7 linked regions of the Homo sapiens genome follow. The protein of the gene in region 2 purifies or fractionates together with the protein of the main gene of each other region. This does not show direct contact. Each region holds a gene or a part of one and is shown on either strand. Other genes may lie near its edges.

Region 1 (3,500 bases), on a different chromosome or scaffold from region 2:
CCTGGATGTAGATGTTTTCCTCTCTCTTGCTGACCCCTCCGCCAGTTTTGTCTTGTGATGCCATTAACACATCTCTCCCTTTCTGACCTGGCTCCTGCCCATTGGTGTCCCAAGAAATCGTGAGAATAGTTAGCCCCCCGTCTCCCCAGCCTGTTGCTTTCTCGTGTAGTTGTTCACAGTAGTTGAGAAGTTGAAGAGCTTTTGCCTATTGAAGGTGCACTGAGAATAAACTCTTTCCTGCCACCAGAATTGCAGTGGTTCACGGCCTGCACTCATTCCCATGAATGCAGTTAATAGCCACAGAAATGTCACATTAAGCAAAGCAGCCAGGGTCTCATCGTGTTGAGACTCGAGTCTCTCAGACCTTGGATTCATTCCCTGGTGTCTTTGAGCCTCAGTTTCCTCATTGGTAAAAGAGAAGTGAAGCAGTGTCTCACAGGGTCATTACAGAGATTAAATGAAATAAATGAAATAACATAGACCAGGAGGGCGTGGTGTTTAAAAGTCACAGATGGGGCACCCTCGGGCCATCCAGCCCAGTGTTTTCTTTAGCCCCTATGATGTTCATTTTTTGTTATATCCCATTAGGTGCCCATATTTAAAAATTGGGAGATTTCACATAAAATTAAAAGGTCTGCATTTTCTTTTTTCTTTTCTTTTTTTTTTTTTTTGAGACACAGTCTCACTCTGTCACCAGGCTAGAGTGCAGTGGCACGATCTCAGCTCACTGCAACCTCTGCCTCCCAGGTTCAAGTAATTCTCCTGCCTCAGCCTCCCAAGTAGCTGGGACTACAGGCACGTGCCACCACGCCCAGCTAATTTTTGTATTTTTAGCAGAGATGGGGTTTCACCACATTGGCCAGGATGGTCTCGATCTCAACCTCGTGATCCACCCACCTCGGTCTCCCAAAGCGCTGGGATTACAGGCGTGAGCCACCGCGCCAAGCCAAGGTCTGCATTTTTCTTTAGAACTCAGAACACCCAATAGTCCTAGGCCCCCATCCTCGCATGGCAGCAAGCTAAATAAGCATCTTCCCACTGCGAGTTGGGGCATGACCCAGCCTATGGTTTGCCATACTCCCTCTTTTTCTCCGTTTTTTCATTAATTGTGAACCTGACCTGCATCACCCTTTCATGTCAGTGCTCTCCAAACCTGCTTGCTTGCACCCCTCTAGTCGAAATATTTTGTGCTTACCCCAATATATGTGTGTGACTATTGAACTCTATTCGTAGACTGCTTGTACTAATGTCATTTGCATCATAAAATATTCATATCCAATAAACATATTAAAAGGATGAGATAAGAAACCGAGAGATTTTGCTGTTTTTTTCCTTTTGCATGGATGAGCCAGCTTCACTGTCCTGGGTGGGGCCCAGGTGGAATTAGTTCTCAAAGTCCTCCAGGTGGAGTCAGGGAATGTGCAACAGGGTTGGAGAAATCACTACTTTAAGTGAATCCGAAAGGTGAGATCACATTTGCTCTAAAGAAATGGTGATCCCAGCACTTTGGGAGGCTGAGGCAGCAGATCACTGGAGGTCAGGAGTTCGAGACCAGCCTGGCCAACACGGTGAAACCCCGTCTCTACTGAAAACACAAAAATTAGCTGGGTGTGGTGGTGTGTGCCTGTAATCCCAGCTACTCGGGAGGCTGAGGCAGGCAAATCGCTTGGCCCGGGAGGCGGAGGTTGCAGTGAGCCGAGATCATGCCACTGCACTCCAGCCTGGGCCACGGAGCGAGAGAAGAAAGAAATGGTGACTTTCATTGATCATGTGTTTGAGGATTTCATGTGCTCTCCAGGGAGGTTTCAGGTGGGTAGAAGGAGGTGGGCAAGACCCAATAAAAAAGCAGCTGGTGCGGGCAATGACAATGAACTCGTATCCTGCAGGGTCAAAGGAAGGCTTGCTTCTGCTGTGAATTGGAGAAGGACTTTCCTGGAAGCACAGGCCCAGAAATCGCACCCTTCTCCCCATGTGTGCGGATAAGGGACCACTTCCATCAGCAGCAGCCCCCTCCTGCTTTCCTGCCAGTCCTCCCTGTGGTCCCAGGTCTCTTGAGAAAAGTGATCTAAGAGATCCCTTTGCAATGAGGTGCTACTGACTGCCCTACCTCCCTCCCTTCCTCCCATGAATGTTTCTTGGTGCTGACCACAGCCTCAGCAATGAGGCAAGCCTGGGGACCCAAGACAGATCTCTGCCTCCCAGGCTAGTGGATGCCCTGGGATATGTAGTCACCAAAATAGGAACTTACCCCATAGTGGGGAAATAGACAGTAAGCAGCAAATCAATAACAAGAGTGTTCCAGATGGTTGTAAGTGCCAGGAAGGGAACCAACTGGGAGAGGGACAAGAGGAGATGGTGACTGACCAAGGGGACCTTGATCAGGCTGTGGGGAAGGGAGGTGGTTGGGAAGAGCTTCCCAGGAAAGGGGACGGCGGGCCCAGGCAGGAGAGCCTTGGGAGGGGGTGCCCAAGGAAGGAAAAGGGCCCTGAGCCTGAAGCCGAGAAGACCAGGAGGGGAGAAGGGGAGATGTAGGGCAGAGCAGACGGGAGCCGCTCGGGTTTTATTCCACACACCCCAGGAAGCATGAGAGGGTTTCAAGCAGCAAGGGCATGGAAGTAACTTGGTGAGATATTTTTATGCATTAGATCATCGCTCTATCTGGATTCCAGAGGGTCTCTGAGAGAGCAAACAGCTTAATCCAAAGGAGCGGCTTTCCAACTGGGAATGTCCCCCTGGCTGGGTGAGATCTCAAGATGGCCTGCGGCCCCTCTAGATTGCCTGCCTACAGAGTTCACTCTAAACAGCCCCTCCCCTCCACACCCCAGCAGATCCATTCCTGACGCCCTCACTGGCAGGCTCCAGCCCCACAGAGCTTTCTAGACATAAAAGAGCAGGGTCATGGCATCATTGGTGACACAATTTTAGTAATAAGCTTCAAAACCCATCACTCCACTGAATCCAGGGATGCCAGAATTGAGAGTCCATAGGACCCGTTTAACGGATCCCACATTCAGTAGACGGTTTTTTGTATGCTTCGAGGGAAGGAAGGTATTTTCAAATGCAACTTCTTTTTTTTTTTTCTTGCTCTAGTTAGGGCTGATTTTACCACTGGGCAAATTGCATACATTTGGATCCATGCCACGCTAAAAACTGTTTATTTTGGAGATCTGTCAGAGGCAAGCACATGGAAGACAAGGGGATTCTGGTTTGAAAAGGCAATTCTCATCCAGACAGATTCAGATGGAGAGGAGCGGTGTGGATTAAAATGCGCCGAAGTGGTAATGCCGTTTATCCCGTTTGCCTTTGTTACTCTGTGATTAAATGGTATTTTTAATTAAGTTTCATTGGGAGCCATAGGTATCGCGGTGGTGAAATCAATTTGACAACCATAAAGGGGAGAGACGGCACAGGCGTGTTGTGATGATTGCGGCTGTAGGGAAAGCCGGGCAGCTTGCAGAGGATGGGTGGGAGGAGGGGAAGCCGGCTAAGAATGACTTCCT
Region 2 (3,500 bases):
AGATAGTAAGGTCCTCCTACAATCACCACCACCACCGCCGCCACTGCCACCACCACTAATGTATTAGAATCACCAGGAACATTGAAATCCTAAGTTTTGTTAAACTGTCCATTGAGAACCTTTACTTTACTTTTTTAAGGACTTTACAGCCTGACTCTCTCATGCTATCTCTTTCCCTTATTTCCCCATTCCAAATCAAATCCCCTTTGCTACACCAAATGCTTGCATATTCTGTATCAAGAAAGATTTCTCAGAATACATATAGCAAGAATAACCAAAATAACTATTTAAAATTCTCCCAAAATAATCAGATCCCTAGAGGAAAGGTTTCTATTATTTCCATAAAGTGTTTCCACTTCTTTTAAATAAAATCTATGTAAGTAGGAAACACAAGTTTTAAGATACAGCTATTAATAATTTTCTATCTATTCATCATCTTAATTTCCTCCCCAATTGATGTGCTATTCGTGCACATGATAAATGATTTGAGACTCCAAAGAGCTCACTGTATTTACAACAGAAAAATGTTACAAAGACACATGCATCAAACAAGAAGCCATACAGTTAAGAGCATGTTACATTCCTATTCCACAAGGGGTTAATGACAATCCAAAATACTGTTTTATATATGAGTAAGATGAAGCAAGCATGAAAAACATTAACAAGCTGTTGGACTGTGAGATTTGAACACAATTTTGGAATGCCTACAAGCTCAGTTTCTTTCGGCTTAATTTATGTTCAAAGTTGGCTGTACATCATTACCAAACACTATTGGTGGCAGGGGTAGGGGTGGGATTGAAAGGATAAAGTGATGACAATAAGAGGTAGTTATCTGCTGGATGCTTAGCAGCACTAGCAATAAAGTGAGATGCCAGTTCTACATTCTAGATTCTACTTTGAATCATTTCTAATTCAATGGAGGGAAAAAGTAGGGTACCCAAATCTTGCCAATTTCTCAAAAATAGAGTTATTTTAATAAAAGTAACCTACATACACAGAGTAGACTAGTGCTGCTACTCCTGTGTTTTATAGGAACTGGCCAAATTAGAACCCAATTTAGGATACTTAGCCATACACGATGCTAAAGAACTGTATTGATTAACCAAGAATTATCACAGTGGCTTTAACACCTAAGACTTACAGAAAGCACATCCTGCTTCTGCCTAACCAAGAGGTATCTGGGGTAATCTTTGCAGATCTAGTAATAAGACAGGTCACTATTCCCCCAGGAAAGGTAGTGGAAACAATAGCAGTTAACAAGAGATTAACAAGATTCAGTGCTTAGATAAACCTTGCCAAGTGCAATGATTATTTTTCAGTTGAGTTGCCCCTTGAATAAAAATAAAGCACAGCCTAGCCTAGTTTATGTGTGTCTGTATATGTATATATTTCCTTCTCCATTGTAACACAAATACACAAAATTTTTACCATGCAATTAATTGGATCAGAGTGTGAGCCCTGAATAAATTCTTTTTTTTTTTTTTGAGACGGAGTCTCGCTCTGTCACCCAGGCTGGAGTGCAGTGGCGCAATCTCTGCTCACTGCAAGCTCTGCCTCCTGGGTTCACGCCATTCTCCTGCTCCAGCCTCCCAAGTAGCTGGGACTACAGGTGCCCGCCACCATGCCCGGCTAATTTTTTTGTATTTTTAGTAGAGACAGGGTTTCACCATGTTTGCCAGGATGGTCTCGATCTCCTGACCTCGTGATCCGCCTGCCTCGGCCTCCCAAAGTGCTGGGATTACAGGCGTGAGCCACCGCGCCCGGCCGAGCCCTGAATAAATTCTAATGTCACTTATAAGAATTTCTTCCTGTCACTTATACCATTTCTTTTCCAGGCATTCTCAAAGAAACATGCTAGTCAAATCCAATTCTCAGAAAGTTGATACGGGGTCTCTATATGACTTGGCATGAAATATTAGGAAACTGGCATCTTATAAGCCTCAAAGACAAGTTAGCAGCATCAAAGACATGCAACTGACTTTGCCATTCCTACTGGAGATCCTAACACAAACAGCACCAGACATGAGGAGAGGAGAAGTTCATGCAGTGCTCACAGAGAATCAGAGAGGGTACCACTACCTGGAGGGTCTGGACTTGCTGGCCTGAGGCGGATGCCACCTGGGCCTCAGTCTGCAACTGCACAGCAGTGACACCACCCTGCTGCTGAGAACAGGAACAGGAAGAGCTTGAAATATGTCAGGAAGGAAATGTGTAGTTCAAGACACAGATCACCTTACCTCTTGGAGGAGAGAGACGGAAGCCTGAAGGACTTTCAAAATGTACAGACTCCCTATATTGAAGCTGTTTTGTTGAAGGTAGTAGGATTAAAGATATTAGCCCTTTGTCTCCAGAGTGGACCTCAAAAATTTGACTCAAAAACTCAAAACAGTTGTCATCATTAACACAAAGATTTGTAATGCAATCTTTCCCTCCAGAAACAGGAATCTGACACTTCTACTTACACAATTGTTTAATGCCCTTTTTATCTCCTCAGATGAGTTCACAAGAAAAAAATGATTAGGTTTTAATAGCCCTGAAACTACCATAAAAAATTCTGGGCTTAAATGCAATCACCAAGAAAGGAGGAGTAATTAATCACTATGAACCGAAATCATCTTCATGACGTCAATGCTCTCATGTCCCAAAACTAAGATTCTTTTTTTTTTAAACTTTATTTATGTACTTATTTTGAGATGGGGTCTTGCTGTTTTGCCCAGGCTGGTCTTGAATTCCTGGGCTTAAGCCAACCTTCCTGTCTCAGCCTCCAGAGTAGCTGGGATTACAGGCATGCAGCACCATGCCCAGCTTCAAAACTAAGATTATTTCTACCCAACTGGACTGCTTTAAGAGCCATGTTTTCAATGATTCAACCTTATTTTTACATCCACTAATGGCAAATTCTGAAAGAATAAAAACCCACCCTCCAGGGCACTGGTGTGAATGGAGGGCCCTTTGTGGAATCCCTTCCTCTAAAAAGGCAGTTGAAGGAAACTGCCAGAGCCACAGCAGCTGTATGGAAGGGAAAGCTATCAGGGGAGTTCGTCTTTGATCATTAGACGGGAAAAACTCATCATCAATACTACCTTTCCCTTCCCTACTACTTTTCTATATTAGCTAAATTCCATTTTGAAAACAAAGTATTTCCAAAATATCAATCTTGGCCTAAGGTCAAATAGAAACATAATACATTTTTTTCTTCTGGGGTGGGGAAAAAAGTGAAATTTTACTATAATAAACCCAAGCATAAAGCATCAGAAAATGTAACCTGTGTATAAATTCAAGAAAGCAATCTATTAATTAGGAATAAACCAGCAGCAGGGAATTCCTTTCTAGTATGTCTTATCCATAAGAATGGCTGTCTAAATATTATCCTAATGTTAAACCAGAGCTTTTCTGAATAAAAAATGTGGCAGACCAAATCAAAAAACAGAAGATTTATTGGAAGCTATGTTGGTTTGTCTGTTGTGGCCAAAGACTTACTAAATCACAAGTTAGCTCAA
Region 3 (3,500 bases), on a different chromosome or scaffold from region 2:
CTTTATTTCAAAGTTATTCACCTCACCGTTAATAAGGTGTATGATTAATGCTCTGTGCCAGTATTTGCAGGCCTGCCCATTGCCGGCAATGGACTTTGAGAAAACCCATTTCCTGGCACCCAAAAGTTAAATTACTCTTTTCAAAACATACCGATCTCCCCAACACTTGCAAAAGTATTACATGCACCATTTTGCCACCATTCTTTAAATCAGAACTTACATTATTAATCTACATCAGTGAATGTTAAATGAAGTCATTTTAACAAATTATGACTGTACAAATCAAAATACTACTAGTTAATATTAGACAAGAGTATCTTACAAACACTACTATTACATATTACCTTGCAATCTGAAACATTATATTTCATATTTGTGTATATTTATTTTAGATAACTGAAACTTCACAGAATTTAACAGCAAATAAAGTTTAAAAAATTTAGTTCTGTACATTAGTTCCAACTATCCCTATTTTACAATCTATAAGGCTCATGTCATAGTTCAGCACCAAAAAGATCTACACAAAACTGTTTAACCAATCTTCTTATCTATCCTGTGTGATAGTTTTGTTTGTTGTTGTTTTTTAAGGTAAAAGTCCTACTTCAGACCTTGAAGTGGAATACTTCTAGTCAGACTAGGTAAAAACTTGGGTCATACCTTATTTTCATTGAACAGATACCAAAAAAAAAAAAAAAAGGAAAAGGAAAAGAGCTGTGTTACACCATGAATTTAGGTTGTCAGCCTCTATGTTGAATTTATAACACTGAAGCATCAGAAATAGCCTAATAATGCCCTGCCCCTATTCTTCCCTTCCATTTTAAATTTTTAAAAAAGTAACCAGAAAAATGTTTCATTTATTCTTTAAAATAAGGTGCAAAGAAGGACTGCAACAACAAACTCCCTCATCCACACCTCCAATAACATCTCACTGTTGTTCAGCATAATCTACCATGAACTGATTCAGGAGCACACCTAGAGCTATATTCACAGCTCCTGAATGTACCATGTTTTCTATACCAGAAGCCTCTTCAATGGCAGTGTTTCTCTGTTCAGAGGTCATTACAATAACTTTTGTCACTGCTGGCCTGGACTTAACATTCCAGATTCCAGAGCCAGTGTTTTATTGTCCCAGCTCTTTTCTTCCTCTTTAGGATTTATCAATTTTAGAAAAAGGGCATGTTTGTTTTGCTATTTTCAAAGGGTTTGTGCGTATCACATTTTACCACATTTTACCCCAATTTTACCACACTGGGGAATGTTGTCACATTCCCCAAGCTAGAAATGTTTTCCAAAAACCACAGGTACTTTCTGTAATCTTGTTGTTCAAAGTACAAAATTCTTACATGTTAAAAAATTTTTTAATTGGAGATTAGTACCTCTGCTTTCTTCTGACAGAAGTACACAATTCATTATACCATGTTTAAAAACCAAACATCATGCATACAAATGGCCAAAGAGGTATGAAGTTTTACAGAGCCCTTAACATCATTCGAGTACATTTGGCATTGGCCAGACCACAACAGGAAGCATGTCAGCAAATAGAGCAAAGAGACTTTCCCAAGTACACGATAGTCATCCAGGCTCCATGTCAGTCACATAAAAATTTACATAACATGTAATCCTTTAAAATTATCCCCAGATATCCCATTCCTCCAACTGTTCCCATACCCCCACCCCATGCCCACCCCACCCTGAAGTCTTGCACCTCACAGAGTATCTTAATGTTCCCCATTACTAATGACAGCTGCTTCAGGTTCTGCTGCTGTGGCAGGGAGTCTTGGTACTTTCTTGGCAGGGCTTGGAATATGCTAAAATGAAAGGAAAAAAGTTGATGGCTCTTATGATTCTTTCCCCCACAAGAATCATGGCACCAATTAAAGTTTCTGTAAAGAAACTTAATAAAGGACAACTCTGGAGAAGTTTATGCTAAATATATATTTTATATAACTTTTCATGAAGGGAACTCAATATCCATTTTTCACCTTATGGTGAATTTAGTATACAATTATCCATATGGGGGGGAGAGGAAGCCTGCCACAGAGACCCACCACGTAACAGTATTTTACTTGTTACGTCTTGTATTTGCAACTCAAACAGTGGCGGTTTGACTTGCTACCTAATTTGTATAATAGCAAAAAGCAAGACTATCCATTTACCAAACTTGTAGTAAGCAGATAAATAAGTAGTTTCAAGGTTATAAAGTCCTTAGTTTATAACCTGGCTTTAATACTTACTACCTATAATCCTGGGCAAGTAATGTAACTTCTTGGAGGCTCATCTCTAAAGGGAGGACAGTATCATTTATAAACTTCAAGGAGGTTGTTGTAAGGATTAAATAAGAAAACGTAAGTAAAGTGCCTAGCAGGTAACAGGAATTCAAATCATAGCTATGATTGTTACTTCTTGACAATTTGAGGACAGATTTTGACCATGATCTGGGATGAGATGTGAAAGGATCCTTGTCCCTCTACTCCATCTCTCACAAAGACACACACCACAAATGAACCTTCTCTCTATATCAGTCTTCCTTTAAATCCTGGTATCATTAATAAAACCTAGTATTTACTGTATATTCTTTTTTTTTTTTTTTTTTTTTTTTGAGATGGAATCTTGCTCTGTCGCCAGGCTGGAGTGCAGTGGTGTGATCTCAGCTTACTGCAACCTCTGACTCCCTGGTTCAAGCCATTCTCCTGACTCAGCCTCCTGAGTAGCTGGAATTACAGGCACGTGCCACCAAGCCCAACTAATTTTTGTATTTTTAGTAGAGACAGGGTTTCACCATGTTGGACAGGATGGTCTTGATCTCCTGACCTCGTGATCTGCCTGCCTCAGTCTCCCAAAGTGCTGGGATTACAGGCGTGAGCCACCGCACCCGGCCTTTACTGTATATTCTTAAAATATTAATAATTCAAATGCAAAGCACTTTATACAATTGGAAATAGTACAGCTAGAATCTACTCCCAGAGCCCTTACTCTTCTTTACTGACATTTATTTATGTTGCTAAATCCCAGTTAGGTCTCCTAAACCCTAAGATATGGAGATGGGAACTCTTTTATTTACCTCAGTTGCTATGTTTGAATGCACAAGTCCTACTCCTTCATCCAAAGTGTCATCATTTGGAGTGGGACGCCGAGCGTAAGTTCTTCTGTGCTTTTCATCCACCCTAACTAAGTACCACGTTCCTTCAAAGAGTGAATCTATTGAACCCTGGGGAATATAGTTGACTAAAGGAAAGGGAGAGAATATCTACAATTAGTTATGATATACAATTCATCTGGTAATAAAGCTAAAGATAAGTTTCATATATCCCAATAATTTTCACTGACATCAGATTAGTACTGAGTAAAGTCTTGATATCCTTATCGTATATGTAGCATCCTTAATGATATCAGCCCTCCAAATGGGTTAACTTAAAGAACATTTAATATTTTTACCCAAATGATGGGTGTCCTCTCTGAGCTTCATGTTTTCAGCGAAGACATCTGGTGCCACACCAGTT
Region 4 (3,500 bases), about 38 Mb from region 2:
AATTTTGGATTTCCTATTGTTTGTTCTGCAATGACAAATTAATAAAGTATTGGGTTTGGGATCATCAATAATTAGTAATAAAAACACATTAATTTAATGTGATAGAAGGAAACACCAAGGAATCACTTTATAGTTTCAAAATAAATGGTTGTAGAAAGAAGATTTTCTTTATTTTAGACTTTCCATTTCAACACGGTTGAAGAGGTTCATTCAAGATTCCAGAGTCTGAATGCTGATATCAACAAACGTGGAGCGTCTTATATTCTGAAACTTGCTAATAGATTATATGGAGAGAAAACTTACAATTTCCTTCCTGTAAGTACTTTGCCCTTCACATTCTAAAACCCCACTAGACAGTGCAGATATTTTCCAGCACAATCAAGTCATGGAGGTCAGTTTTAATATTTGTAAACTTTCAGAAAAACAATACAGAAGGCAAACATGGCAAAAACAATATGGAAGGCAAACACGACAGAATGCAAACTTTAATTGACATGGTGATTTTGTGTTACAGTCTTTTTAGTGAAAAGATAGCTCTTGGAGGTTTTACTGAAGCAAGAGTACAATCAGTGTTTGTGAAATCTTAGTCAAAGTTCAGAAAAGAGTGGTAATTTCTATATAACAACAACAGTATAAGGGTTAGGCTTACCACTACTGGAATGCACAGTTAAAAGTGGCTAAGATCGTAAATTTAATGTTAAATGATTTTTACTACTATAAGAAAAACTATAAGAGTTAGAAATTTTGTGTTACATGGAATTGTAGCCTTTTAGGACAATTTCTGTTGCTTTTTGGGATTTTAGAAAACAATTTCTATATGTAGTAGGAGTTATATATATATTTCCTTTTCCTTTTTTTTAATAGGAGTTCTTGGTTTCGACTCAGAAAACATATGGTGCTGACCTGGCCAGTGTGGATTTTCAGCATGCCTCTGAAGATGCAAGGAAGACCATAAACCAGTGGGTCAAAGGACAGACAGAAGGTGAGAGCCTGGGCAGAATGGAATCATTATGCGCTGGTCATGTCATTCGTTTCCTCAGTCCGCCTTCCCTACCTGCAGTTATTCCCTCCCCAGCTCCCACAGTCCTGGCGCACATCGTGGTTACAGTCAGAGGACGCTGCCGGTGCGTGAAGTCTGCACTGCACGTTGCTGGACAGCTCTCACATGTTCGAAGTTCACCAGAGTGGAAACTTAAACATGATTTAACTCAAGCAGCTAAATCCTTTTTTCTCATCAGCTCCCCAAAACTTTTAAAGTTGCATTTCAAAGTTAAAACCAACATTGGCAGGCGCGGTGGCTCATGCCTGTAATCCCAGCACTTTGGGAGCCCAAGGCGGGCGGATCATTTGAGGTCAGGAGTTCAAGACCAGCTTGGCCAACATGATGAAACCCTGTCTCTACTAAAAATACAAAAAATTTAGCCAGGTGTGGTAGCACACACCTGTAATCCCAGCTACTCTGGAGGCTGAGGCAGGAGAATCTCTCGAACACAGGAGGTAAAGGTTACAGTGAGCCGAGATCATGCCACTGTACTCCAGCCTAGGCAACAGAGCGAGACTCCGTCGTAAAAAAAATAATAAAAATAATAAAAAATAAAAAATAAAGTTAAAACCAACACTGAATACAGCAAAAAAGGAATTAAAATTTTGAGGAGAATTCAGCCTGCCAAAAATTACCTAATACTCATATGGAAAGAAATGTCCTGGAATTTCATGGAAATACCTGAAATCAATATTCACAAACTACTGTGGTTGTAAATTTTTTGCCAACATCTTGTCCAGTAAAAAAGTTGTGGTAGGTGGGGACTGACTTGCTTTTAGGGTGCAATTTATTTCTTTGCTACATCTCTCTTCTTACATAGCCCTGTATTAGTCAACCCACTCCAGAAGACCTGTCTTCCATTATGGGAATTGTTCCCAGCCATACTTATGGTCACGAAGGTGACCTTTATTTCCATGGAGTATGTTCTGCTGGTTTTTTTGTTTGTTTGTTTGTTTTTTGTTTTTAAGAGACAGAGTCTTGCTCTGTCGCCCAGGCTTGAGTGCAGTGGTGCGATCGTGGCTCACTGCAGCCTTGACCTCCTGGGCTCAAGGAATCTTCTCATCTCCACCTCCCAAAGCACTGGGACTGCAGGTGTGCGCCACCATGCTTGGTCTTGTTCTGCCTTTTGGATATTGTTTAAACCTTTTTTTGTGAGAGTAGGCATCTACTCAGCGATTTGAAGAAGTGATTTACTGATGACTAAAGATATCTTCATTAAGAATTTTTTTTTTCTAAAAAAGAATGGTTGTTACAAAATAAGGCTCATTGTTTATCATACAGTCCAGAAAAGGAGAATTTTCCTGTCTTTTGTCTTTCGGCACATTTGACTTGTTTAAAATGTCAGGTCCTTGTGGGAAGTTTGTGTGTCATCCTGGTCTGTCTGCCCCACAGGTTGTTATACTTAAAGTAGAGACATGTTAGTGAGTAGGGCTTTCCTAAGTTAATATCTTGTTAAATGAAAATTAAGTAGAAATTATATATTTGAATTGCATTTCCGTGCTAATATATTGTCAGTTCAAATTTGGAATTCCGATTTGGATTTTTTTTACGCTAACTTGATTTTTTTTTAGGAAAAATTCCGGAACTGTTGGCTTCGGGCATGGTTGATAACATGACCAAACTTGTGCTAGTAAATGCCATCTATTTCAAGGGAAACTGGAAGGATAAATTCATGAAAGAAGCCACGACGAATGCACCATTCAGATTGAATAAGGTGAGGTGAGGTAACTGTACAGAGTCATGCATTGCTCTAAAAGAATGCAGAGAATAATTTCAGTGATTTTTTAAAACTGTTCAGAAAGACAGAAAAACTGTGAAAATGATGTATCAGAAGAAAAAATTTGCATATGGCTACATCGAGGACCTTAAGTGCCGTGTGCTGGAACTGCCTTACCAAGGCGAGGAGCTCAGCATGGTCATCCTGCTGCCGGATGACATTGAGGACGAGTCCACGGGCCTGAAGAAGGTATGGCTCCTGGGCTTCATGCTTTGTGGTTCCTCTTGCATGTGTGTGTCGCATGGTAGGTAGGTGCTTGTTAAGTGTTCACTGATGGTGCATTTTCCAGTAGTTTGTCATTCCTTTGTAAATGTAGCCCATCAACACTTACTACACTAAAGCCCAGAGTTAATTTTTTTTTAAATTTACTTATAGAGACAAGGTCTCACTATGTTGTTTAGGCTGGTCTTGACCTCCTGGCTTCCAGCAATCCTCCTGCCTCAGCCTTCTGAGTAGCTGGGACTATAGCTGTGAGCCACTGTGCCCGGCTAACGTTTCATTTTTCAAGAAAGATGGCCAGCTACTTTCAGTGGACACTTGTGATGGGGTCATTAAAGATCTATACTAAATATAATACTGGTTAGTGGCAGCTCATGGAAAGGCTCTTGAATTAGCTTTAGAGGAAATTACAGTAAGATGAGGATTGTTTTACTGAGGAAAAAGATTGAAAAGCCCCAAATA
Region 5 (3,500 bases), about 42 Mb from region 2:
GACAGTGGTTCTCAAATAAGAGGGATTTTTGCCCTGCAGGAAACATTTGGCAATGTCTGGAAGCTTTGAGTTGTCTTAACTAGGGTAGCGGGGTTGGAAGGGAGTAAAGGGAGGGGCTACTGACATCTAGCAGATAGAGGCAGCGGAATGATTCTACTAAATATCCTGTAGTGCACTGGACAGCCCCTGCGACAAGGAATTATCCAGCCTAAAATGTCAATAGTGCTGAGGTTGAGAAATACTGCAGTAGATAAGACCCTCCTGGAAGACAGGGATCACATCTCACAAATCTTTATTTTCCTTATAGCACTTAATACAGTACTTACACAATGCATGTGCAGTGCAAGACTTTAAAGTGGTTTTAGAAAACTCAAAGGAATTTATGAAACTTTATTCTTTATTTTGTGCATATATAATTTTGATTTTTACCTTGTATTATACTCCATTCCTACAAGCTCTTGTGAAACAGATGACAACGTTGAAAATAATGATGATAACTACAATAAAAGAAGTACTTACTCCATGACAGGAACTTTACTAAGTGTTTAATATTGTTTTTACAAAATATATTCTGTCAATAATCTTATTGTTTTTCATTTCCATTATGCTAATTGCTTTATTCTTCTGTTAAAGTTACTTCAGTGGGTGGTACTTTACTTTTGCAGATGAATCAGATGGTTGTCTTAAGTGATAGCGTTGGTTTATAAAACTTAATTGCTTTGTAGCCTGACAAGACTGAAATATACTCATAGAATTGCTTATAAAGAAAGTTTACACATTAGATACAAATTTCCAAGTGATTGGTAACTAACTCAATGTACTATGGAAGCCAAATATTATCTTTAGTTTTTAATAGATATTTGTAGATTTGTGACCCTAAGGATTGTAAGGATTGTTGGCATTAACAAACTTGCCTCTTTTTGTCACTATACTTGAATACAAATAGTTTATATAGCATTTTGTTTAGGGTCTATTAGAAAATGAGCTGATAGATATCATTGATTTGAGGCATGGTCTTCTTGTGTGAATTAACCAATGATAGTGTTAATTACCAGCTTCATATTTCTTCATTAGGAGTTGCTGCAATTGGTGGTGCATTCTCAGAACAAATTCTCAAAGATATGGCTGCCTTCAATGAACGGCCTATTATTTTTGCTTTGAGTAATCCAACTAGCAAAGCAGAATGTTCTGCAGAGCAGTGCTACAAAATAACCAAGGTAAAGTAAAACTATAACAGATATTTTAATAATCAAATTTTTATTCATTATAGGGAGGCCTAGGATATCTAAGGTGCTTACTGTTTAAGTTTAAAAATTATACAACCAAAATGGAAAGAAAAGCACACAAATCAGAGGGATAAGAACTATTTCCTTTTCTAGAATGTTGTATAAATCCTCTTCTTCAACAAAATAAAATACATATTTTAATGTTTTACTGATAATTTTCCACAAGTGATTTGGAAATAGATATCTAAGATTTAAACATAAAAGTTAAATAGAAAGGAAGCAGCTTGGTTCTAGAGGCTTATTAAAATAGCTTTTAACTAGCTATTCCCAAACACTGAAGCATACAATGTAAAACCACAACCTTATTTTTGCTTTGCTAAATCCTGGGTTTGGGTTTTGGTACTATGGGTGGAACATTTGGGCAACTATCTTGACATCCAGCCAGACTGGGATAGGAGTCCTCAATGCTTCAACATTTTACTATGATTTATTTTATACCATGTTTGTACTAATATGTATTTGGCTGATATGCTGAAAGGAGCCTTTTTTCCCTTCAAAGACTTTAAAATATCATTACAACAAAATAGAGGTTGAGTCATATCTATCTAAAATGTTTATTTTGGAAAGAAATCCAAAATGAACTAGAGAGGTAAACATGAACGCTATGTCACTCTGCATTAACTGGAACTTAATGGCTCTATTTTAATCATATATCCTTAAATGCTCAATACTAGAATTAGTGATTTTTCTTTTTGGCAAGGAGCCACTCCATTGTTTATCTCTCTTATTTGGGATGGCATCAGTGTTCTCACTGATTTTAATTTTTATCTCATCTCTAGATTGGGGAATTTGCCTCACATTATTCAGTAGTCCTTAAATCCTTAAAGGAAAAAAAAGTCCTTTCAGCAACAACCAAGTCTTAGCATCATGCCTTGCACCTACTAGGCATATAATAAACAAGTGTTTAATTAATTATTTTGTCTTAATATATCTCAACAGGCCTCAAGGGTTAAGAGACTTATCTATAACACACATAAACAAAATTAGCCAAATTTATGTAGTTGTATTTTAAACTTTGAATGTGTCTGATATAAATGTATGCCTCAACTCTTTCTTATCATCTTGCCTAATGTTCTATGTTTTTCTACATAAAACATTGAAAGTTATTTTGAGGATGAAAATTTAGACACTGGTTTGGCTAAAGGATTGGAGAAAAAGGAAAGGTCTGCCTGTTGCTGGATGTGAGTTTCTGCTACTGTAGGCACAGGTGAAGATAGGAAAGGTTAAGTTACAATATACAGAAAGACTATTGAACCATAAAAATATAATCTAAAAATGGTATGGGAAGGTTCCCTTCACCATGTTAATAACATATATATATGAGAATATTTAGCTAGCTACAGTACTGTCATTTATTTAATGACATTTCTCCTTAAAATATGGTGATTATAGAAAGGCAGGAAGAGTGGGAGTGCAGGAGTGGGGGAGATATATATATATATATATATATATATATAATGTTACAGGCCTCTTTCTCAAATATAATTTTCCAAAACCTTTATATATGAAGTAATAATTTAGTTACATTAGAAAGTTGTTTATAACAAAATGTTTTATCTGCTAAAGAGCTTAAGGTATCAGACTTGTCTGAAAACAAAACCGAATTCTGTGCAAAACATAACAGTGTCTTATAAACAGCTAGATGAGAATTTGTTTTTCTGCCTCATCTATTTTCATCTTTTTGTCTCTCAAAGAAGGTTGAATTTCTGTTATACAACTTTAAGAACAACTAAAAGGTATATTATGACATTTGCTAAAAATAGGTTAATATTAATATCATTATTTAGACTCTAGATCCAAGAGATATGAAAGTTAAAACCCATTCTGTCATCGTTTAAACTATGCCTTGGGGATTTGATGCTTTAGACTTTTCAAATAGATTTCTTAGACTGTGATGCTTTATTTGTTTAGGGTTTCTGATTCCTACTTTGAAGCCTAAATACTCTCAACTAGATGTCCACTCTCACCATCACAGACAAATGTTCTTTTGATTAGCAATATGAAATGCAGCACCTAACAGGCCCTAGTTAATGCCTTTTTTTTTTTTTTTTTTTTTTTTTGAGATGGAGTCTCGCTCTGTCACCCAGGCTGGAGTGCAATGAATGGCACGATCTCGGCTCACTGCAACCTCCGCCTCCCAGTTTCAAGCAGTTCTCCTGCCTCAGCTTCCTGAGTAGCTGGGATTACAGGTGCCCACCACCACACCCAGCTAAT
Region 6 (3,500 bases), on a different chromosome or scaffold from region 2:
CTTCGGTCCCCACAGCACCCACTCCCTTCCCAGCCCCAGAGCGCCCGAATGTGGTGCTCTGGACCGTGCCTCTGGGCCACACGGGCACTGCCACCACCGCGGCCGCCGCCTCTCACCCAACGCACTACGACGCCCTCATCCTCGTCACCCCTGGGGCCCCCACTGAGAAGGACTGGGCCCAGGTCCAGGCCTTGCTGCTACCAGATGCGCCTCTTGTCTGCGTGCGCACAGACGGCGAGGGCGAGGATCCGGAGTGTCTGGGAGAAGGCAAGATGGAGAATCCCAAGGGCGAGAGCTTAAAGAACGCAGGTGGAGGGGGATTGGAGAATGCACTCAGTAAGGGAAGGGAGAAATGTAGCGCTGGATCGCAGAAAGCAGGCAGCGGGGAAGGTCCTGGGAAAGCTGGCAGCGAGGGTTTGCAGCAGGTTGTCGGCATGAAGAAATCAGGTGGTGGCGACTCAGAGCGGGCCGCTGCGTTAAGCCCGGAGGACGAGACGTGGGAGGTGCTGGAGGAGGCGCCGCCGCCAGTGTTCCCCCTACGGCCTGGCGGACTCCCAGGGCTATGCGAATGGCTGCGGCGAGCGCTCCCCCCAGCCCAGGCAGGGGCACTGCTGCTGGCGTTGCCACCAGCATCTCCCAGCGCTGCCCGAACCAAGGCTGCGGCGTTGCGAGCCGGGGCGTGGAGGCCAGCTCTGCTGGCTAGTCTGGCGGCGGCGGCGGCACCACTCCCAGGGCTGGGCTGGGCATGCGACGTGGCACTTCTGCGGGGTCAGCTGGCGGAGTGGCGACGGGGCCTGGGGCTGGAACCCACGGCACTGGCTCGACGTGAGCGTGCCCTGGGCCTGGCTTCTGGAGAGCTGGCAGCGCGCGCTCATTTCCCAGGCCCGGTGACGCGCGCCGAGGTGGAAGCAAGACTGGGCGCCTGGGCGGGCGAGGGCACTGCTGGGGGCGCAGCACTGGGGGCTCTCTCCTTCCTGTGGCCTGCGGGTGGTGCAGCGGCGACAGGTGGCCTGGGCTACCGAGCGGCTCACGGCGTCCTGCTGCAGGCTCTCGATGAGATGCGGGCTGATGCTGAGGCTGTGCTGGCACCCCCTGAGCCTGCCCAGTGAGGAGTGGGAGGGGGCTTGGGAGTCCAGACTCTGACAGGGGATGCCTGGGCTTAATCCTGGGTGCTTGAAGGGGATGTGGACTCTTGACTTCCAGCTGGGATGTGTGACTTCTTATCACCTGGATTCAGAGAGTCTGGGGGACAGGAATCCTGATTTTTTTTTTTTTTTTTCTTTTTTTTGTGAGACGAAGTCTCTTGTTGCCCAGGCTGGAGTGCAATGGCGCGACCTCGGCTCACTGCAACCTCCGCCTCCCGGGTTCAAGCGATTCTCCTGCCTCAGCGTCCGGAGTAGCTGGGATTACAGGTGCCTGCCACCACACCTGGCTAATTTTTGTATTTTTAGTAGAGACGGGGTTTCACCATGTTGGCCAGGCTGGCCTCGAACTCCTGACCTCAGGCGATCGACCCGCTCCGGCCTCCCAAAGTGCTAGGATTACAGGCGTGAGCCACCGCCCCTGGCCAGGAATCCTGATACCTTTGGGAACCATGGTGAATGACATCTAGACCCTTCTGTCCTGAAGGGAGTTGGTGGCCCAGACTCTAGCAGGGACTATGTCTTTGTCTCCTAGGGAGTAGAAACTGGAGTTACTGGATGTTTAGTCCTCCAGGGAGGCTGGTAGAAGTCCTGTTTCCTAATTGGTGGGGAGGTGTCCATGACTGGGACCTGAACTCCAGTATAGGGGAGGGAGACCTGAGCGCCCCAGGGAGCTGGAACTCTTGGGCTTCAGAGCCTCAGAGGGAAACAGGGTCTACATTTCTCTGGGAGAAAAAGCCTGCACACAGGTCCCCAAGGAGCAGTGGGCTTTGAATCTTGATGGGGTGGCGGAGGCCCCTGGGGTCTGAGACTTCCGGGGTTCTAAGATGGCTGTGGACCTTGGTTCCTAAATATTGGGTAAGGGGAGGTCTGCATCTGGAGGAGGGATCGGGGGCTTGTGCGAGAAAGCTGGAGACTTCTTGATCTCTCCTGGGGAGTGGATGGGTTTCTATAATTGCCCTCCAAAAGCATGTAGGGAGGGTGGTCCCACAAAAATGAGGTGAGGTGGGTAAGAGGTCTGGGCATGGTGGGCTCTGGGAGTAGCCAGGGACCAGGAATGAGGTCTTTTGGGTGTGGAAGGGCAGTAAAGCATACCTCAGAGACAGCTCCTCCAAACCTTGTATTGGGATCCCGGCAACTGCCTCTGTGAGTGTGACTGGGAAGGGATATGACTGCCTTCATCTTCTAGGTGCTGAGCAATTCAGGTGATCTCTGGGGAGTCTGTTTCTCTGTCTCTTTTCTTTAGGAGTTTCTATCTTTTTTTGGCCTTTTTCTCCTGGTATTTAACCATAACCCTTTATGGCCTTGGTGTTTTGTGCACCTTCCTTTTCAGAAGAGCAGCTGTACTGCTGCACTGGTCCAAACACTTCTGTATGGACACCTCGGGTATCCCCAAGAGGCTCTGCTTTCTGATGTACATAGAGGGTGCTGCATTGAGCCAGGGGCCCACCAAATGGGTGGTCAGGCACTTGAGACCATGGGAATATGCCAGGAGTGAATGAAGCAAAGGCAGAAACCACAGTGCCTGGAATGTTCTAGGCTGCTAGCCACATGTGGGGGAAAAGTTGCAGGTTACAGAATTCTTCAGTGTCAAAAACAGAAAAGGAGGATCTGAGAATCCAAGCGATAGAATCCCTTTTGTCGTAGACAGAAAGAGCAAAGTCCAGAGAGGGCAGGCTTGAGGCCCAACAGCACACAGTAAGGCCCTGTGGGTCTGGCCCTTGCCTATTCTCATTCACTGCCCCTTCCCACTCCTGTCCAGCCTGATAGACTTTCCTTCTTTTTTTTTTTGAAATGGAGTCTCACCTTGTCACCCAGTCTGGAGTACAGGGATGTGATGACTGTAGCTGAGATGACAGGCATGTGCCACCACACCTGGCTAATTTTTGTAGTTTAGTAGAGAAGGGATTTCACCCTGTTGGTCAGGCTGGTCTCGAACTCCTGACCTCAGGTGATCCACCCGACTCAGACTCCCAAAGTGCTGGGATTACAGGTGTGAGCCATCATGGCCGCCTGACTCTTTCTGATGCCTGAGTGGCTACCTTGAGTCCTGCCTGGGGACCCATGCACCTGCTGTTCTCTTTCCTTCAAGGCTCTACTCACAACTTCCTGTTCTACTCTCAAACCTTCCTGTGACGGGCTCAGTCAGATCTCAGCTCACGTATCCCCTCAGAGAGGACTTCCCCTCCCTGACCACCCTATCTGAAGTAGCTCACATTCCCCCACTATTCATTTCGGCCAGTTGAGTTTCCTTGTAGCAATTATTACTGTCAAAAATGATCTTATTTATTTACCTGTTTATTGGCTTTTGACCCGTTGCCTGTCCTGTTCTCTGTTGTTTCCCCAGCATCTAGAACA
Region 7 (3,500 bases), on a different chromosome or scaffold from region 2:
GTACACATAAATGGTATAGAGAATTAAAGTCTGGGGTTTCATAAAATTTCATTTTACTAATAATTTGATTACCATTCATTCAAAATCTGACATGTAATCACAGGTCGAATCTACTGTTCCCTAATTCCTCAAAAATCTAAAATTGGCCCAGGCTGCGCCAAGGGCCTGGGGACTGCAGAACCCTTCAGGGAGATGATGTGCTTCACCACTTCCTGCCTGCCATTTGATCTTCCCATGTTCCTAAACCTTTAATATTTCAAAGAATTCTTATTTCCTTCAATCCCTCTTCTTATTTGTACACAGGATGTAAAAGAGCTAATGACACCTGTTGTAATGAGCTCTCTGCAGGAGTGTCCTATGAATCTGACGGATGTGAATTCTGGGGGTAACTATGGAGTTCTAGTGACTACACAGAGACAAAGTAGGTGCATCTGCCATGTTTTTTCCTTCCAGGTACTTTTTTTTTTTTTTCTCAGAAATGTTGTTTGGAGTTGAGCACTTGATTTCAGGTCTAAAAATAATTTGTATTTTCTCTCTTTAAGATGAAAAGATCTAAGCAGATCAATGCCCTGAACTAGATAACCTTCTCCAAATTTTATATAATGTAGCATGCTGTGTGGGTAGCTCTCTTTGCTGTTAGCTGGAATCTGTTCTGGCAATGGATATGTATGCTCATTTTAATATTAGGCAAAGGCCAATGGTATATCCCACTGAGAAAGTAAACATAAAAGAAATGATGCTACACACACACACACACACACACACACACACACACACACATATATATATATTTTTTTTGAGACGGAGTGTCGCACTATCAATCACCTGGGCTTGGGGTGCAGTGGCAGGATCTCGGCTCATTGCAACCTCCACCTCCCAGGTTCAAGCAATTCTCCTGCCTCAGCCTCCCAAGTAGCTGGAATTACAGGCACCTGCCACCACGCCCAGCTAATTTTTTTGTATTTTTAATAGAGACGGGGTTTCACCATGTTGGCCAGGCTGGTCTCGAACTCCTGACCTCATGATTCGCCCACCTTGGCCTCCCAAAGTGCTGGGATTACAGGCGTGAGCCACCATGCCTGGCCAAAATGATGCTATGCTATAAAACTAAATAATTTGAAAATTCTTTTATTTAAACAAATCATATCTGTGGTTATACCCTGCCATTGATTAGAAACAATGTAATACAGAGAAGCTTGTAACAGCTAAAAAAAGAAAAAAAAGCAGTTTCATCTGTTTCAATAAATTTTTATTGAGCACCTATGTTGTCCTAGTGTTGGGAACAGAATAGAAAAGGCAGATAAAAAAATCCCTGCCCTGATGGAGTTACATTCTAGTCCTTGAGACTAAAGGTCAGACAGCAGCAAAAAAAAAGGTATACATTATAATACCTTTAGTCTGTAGAAAAACTGTTGCAACAATATTCATTGAAGCAGTTTTTAGCTAAATAATGTATCAGGTTACATGGTGATTTGACGTCTTGTTCCCTAGGTAAAGGAATGACCATGGTAACCCCAAAGCGAGAAATATTAAGAACACGAGTCAGTCACTCAAACATTTTCTAAGTGCTGACACTGAAGATATAGAAAGCAAGATATAAGGCAAGCTCTACCCTCCAGCTGCTTACAGTCTAGTGAAGGAGACAGATGAATGATATTCACACACACACACACCCCCACACACCCACCCACACACACACCATTGGGAACATGGAGAGTCTGGAGGAAATGGTGGAGTTTGGGCATAGTGAATCAGGAAAGGTGTTCCGAAAAAAAGTTAAACCTAAACTGAATCTAAAGGAATAAATGTGTAGGTACAGTCAGGTAAAACAGGGAAAAGTACGGTGTATTAGAAAAACTATTAGGAGTAAGCAAAAGACAACAGTGTGTAAACTAGAAAATGATGGTGAACGTGTGGAAATGTATGATTTGCGTTGGATAACTAGTAGAAGGGACAGGAGAGGCAAGAAGGGGCCAGATCTATCAAAAGTTTAATAATTTGCATTTTAGGAAGATAATTTTCCATCATTATGGTGGGTAGCTTTTGAGCAAGATGAATGAAAGTGGAGGAACGAAATTTGAGGCCACTGCAATAGTCAAAATAACAACAAAAAAAAAGGTCTAAAGTAGAATGGTTGTAATTATAAGAATGTGAAATATATTGGTGAGGCACAGTTGATAGAGAATGAATAACTGTATCTGGGGCAATGGGTGAACGCTGAAAATTGGCATTGACATAAAAACTTGTTACCTTATCTTCACAGTACCACACTCTTATAACTATATATAACTATATAAACCATATGTAATTTCATTCCTTAGCCAGGAGTCCCTTTTACTTGATAGCTCAGGGGACCATTAACACATATGTGTTTTGCTGCATATAAAGAAGTAAATGTCTATTTGGATACTCCTGGATTATACACTTTACCATCTATGGTCAACTTTTTACCCTTTATCTACATTACCATCACTTGGCCATTATACAACAGCAGCTCTGTGTAAGCAGAGTAAATGCAAGAAAAAATATACTTTCACATTGGAATGTTTGGCCCACACAAAAATCTAAATACGCAGGCCAAGTTTTGTTATGCTAAATCAATTCAATGAGGGTTTAAGAAATAGGTATCTTACAATCTCCAGGTAGCAAAAACAAAATTCCAGTGGGTGGTCCAATAACACAAACAGAAAGCATCATATTCAAATAGAGCTAAAGAATATCAATAGCCCCTAGACACCTTTATTGAAATGGAATCTGATTGCTAACCATGAAAATAAAACAATCTCATTCCCATTAAGAATTTTTTTAAGTGAGGATTTTATTATTAAGCAGTACCTATAATTGATATTGTAAATTTCACAAGTAGAAATCTTGAGGTGGCTCATAGTCAATGCATGTATTGTTTTTGAATTGCCTTGATTTTAACACCCTGTGGTAGGAATAATTTGCTTTCTACTTAGGAGGACTGCTTTCTGTTTCCCATTTGTAAGAGGCTTTAAGAAAAGCATAAACTCAAGTCCTAAAGCAGGCTGAGGCAACCATATCCTTAGAACACTTCTCACCACAGCGTGATTCTTCACATAGCAGGGCTTGCACACGGGCTTGTCATTGACCATCACGTATATCTCCCCAGCTAGAATGCTATCACAGTCAAAGCAGCAGAAGTGTTTCAGGTGCCAATTCTGGTTTTCTGCCTGGGTATACTCATTGCTGAATATCAGCTAGGAAGAAGATAAAAATAAAGATGGATTTTTATATAATAAGAGATTTATATCTGTAACAACATACTTTCTCAGGGTCTAAAGTTTGAAAATGATAACCTAAAGCTTGAACTTATGCTATCACTTAGTTTAGTCTAAATCAATCTTTTATATTTCTAGTCTTTCATTTGTCAACCCAATTAACACAGACAGAATGAATGATATCAGAAGTTTATTTTTTAAAACTTCTTTGGATGTAAACAGAGCAACTGCTGTTTGGTCAAGTCTTGTTGCCTTCTA

What was found.
Region 1: the proteins of NFYA (region 2) and FTO purify together in Homo sapiens (affinity purification with mass spectrometry; 2 studies listed by BioGRID and IntAct, with this or other methods). This does not show direct contact.
Region 3: the proteins of NFYA (region 2) and HMGCS1 purify together in Homo sapiens (affinity purification with mass spectrometry; 3 studies listed by BioGRID and IntAct, with this or other methods). This does not show direct contact.
Region 4: the proteins of NFYA (region 2) and SERPINB1 purify together in Homo sapiens (affinity purification with mass spectrometry; 2 studies listed by BioGRID and IntAct, with this or other methods). This does not show direct contact.
Region 5: the proteins of NFYA (region 2) and ME1 purify together in Homo sapiens (affinity purification with mass spectrometry; 2 studies listed by BioGRID and IntAct, with this or other methods). This does not show direct contact.
Region 6: the proteins of NFYA (region 2) and IRGQ purify together in Homo sapiens (affinity purification with mass spectrometry; 3 studies listed by BioGRID and IntAct, with this or other methods). This does not show direct contact.
Region 7: the proteins of NFYA (region 2) and TES purify together in Homo sapiens (affinity purification with mass spectrometry; 2 studies listed by BioGRID and IntAct, with this or other methods). This does not show direct contact.

Annotation. Positions count from the first base shown.
Region 1 is NC_000016.10:54,113,156-54,116,655, forward strand, and holds part of FTO (alpha-ketoglutarate-dependent dioxygenase FTO), read left to right. Parts: 3' UTR 1-3,500.
Region 2 is NC_000006.12:41,079,474-41,082,973, reverse strand, and holds part of NFYA (nuclear transcription factor Y subunit alpha), read right to left. Parts: intron 2,164-3,500; coding exon 2,077-2,163; intron 1-2,076. UniProt on the Homo sapiens protein: Component of the sequence-specific heterotrimeric transcription factor (NF-Y) which specifically recognizes a 5'-CCAAT-3' box motif found in the promoters of its target genes.
Region 3 is NC_000005.10:43,289,413-43,292,912, forward strand, and holds part of HMGCS1 (hydroxymethylglutaryl-CoA synthase, cytoplasmic), read right to left. Parts: coding exon 3,436-3,500; intron 3,226-3,435; coding exon 3,062-3,225; intron 1,809-3,061; coding exon 1,719-1,808; 3' UTR 1-1,718. UniProt on the Homo sapiens protein: Catalyzes the condensation of acetyl-CoA with acetoacetyl-CoA to form HMG-CoA, which is converted by HMG-CoA reductase (HMGCR) into mevalonate, a precursor for cholesterol synthesis.
Region 4 is NC_000006.12:2,835,364-2,838,863, reverse strand, and holds part of SERPINB1 (leukocyte elastase inhibitor), read left to right. Parts: intron 1-177; coding exon 178-315; intron 316-864; coding exon 865-982; intron 983-2,613; coding exon 2,614-2,756; intron 2,757-2,840; coding exon 2,841-3,008; intron 3,009-3,500.
Region 5 is NC_000006.12:83,225,052-83,228,551, reverse strand, and holds part of ME1 (NADP-dependent malic enzyme), read left to right. Parts: intron 1-1,074; coding exon 1,075-1,217; intron 1,218-3,500. UniProt on the Homo sapiens protein: Catalyzes the oxidative decarboxylation of (S)-malate in the presence of NADP(+) and divalent metal ions, and decarboxylation of oxaloacetate.
Region 6 is NC_000019.10:43,589,635-43,593,134, reverse strand, and holds part of IRGQ (immunity-related GTPase family Q protein), read left to right. Parts: coding exon 1-1,109; 3' UTR 1,110-3,500. UniProt on the Homo sapiens protein: Autophagy receptor that specifically promotes clearance of misfolded MHC class I molecules by targeting them to the lysosome for degradation.
Region 7 is NC_000007.14:116,252,039-116,255,538, reverse strand, and holds part of TES (testin), read right to left. Parts: intron 3,222-3,500; coding exon 3,063-3,221; intron 422-3,062; exon of another isoform or gene 1-421. UniProt on the Homo sapiens protein: Scaffold protein that may play a role in cell adhesion, cell spreading and in the reorganization of the actin cytoskeleton. Plays a role in the regulation of cell proliferation. May act as a tumor suppressor. Inhibits tumor cell growth.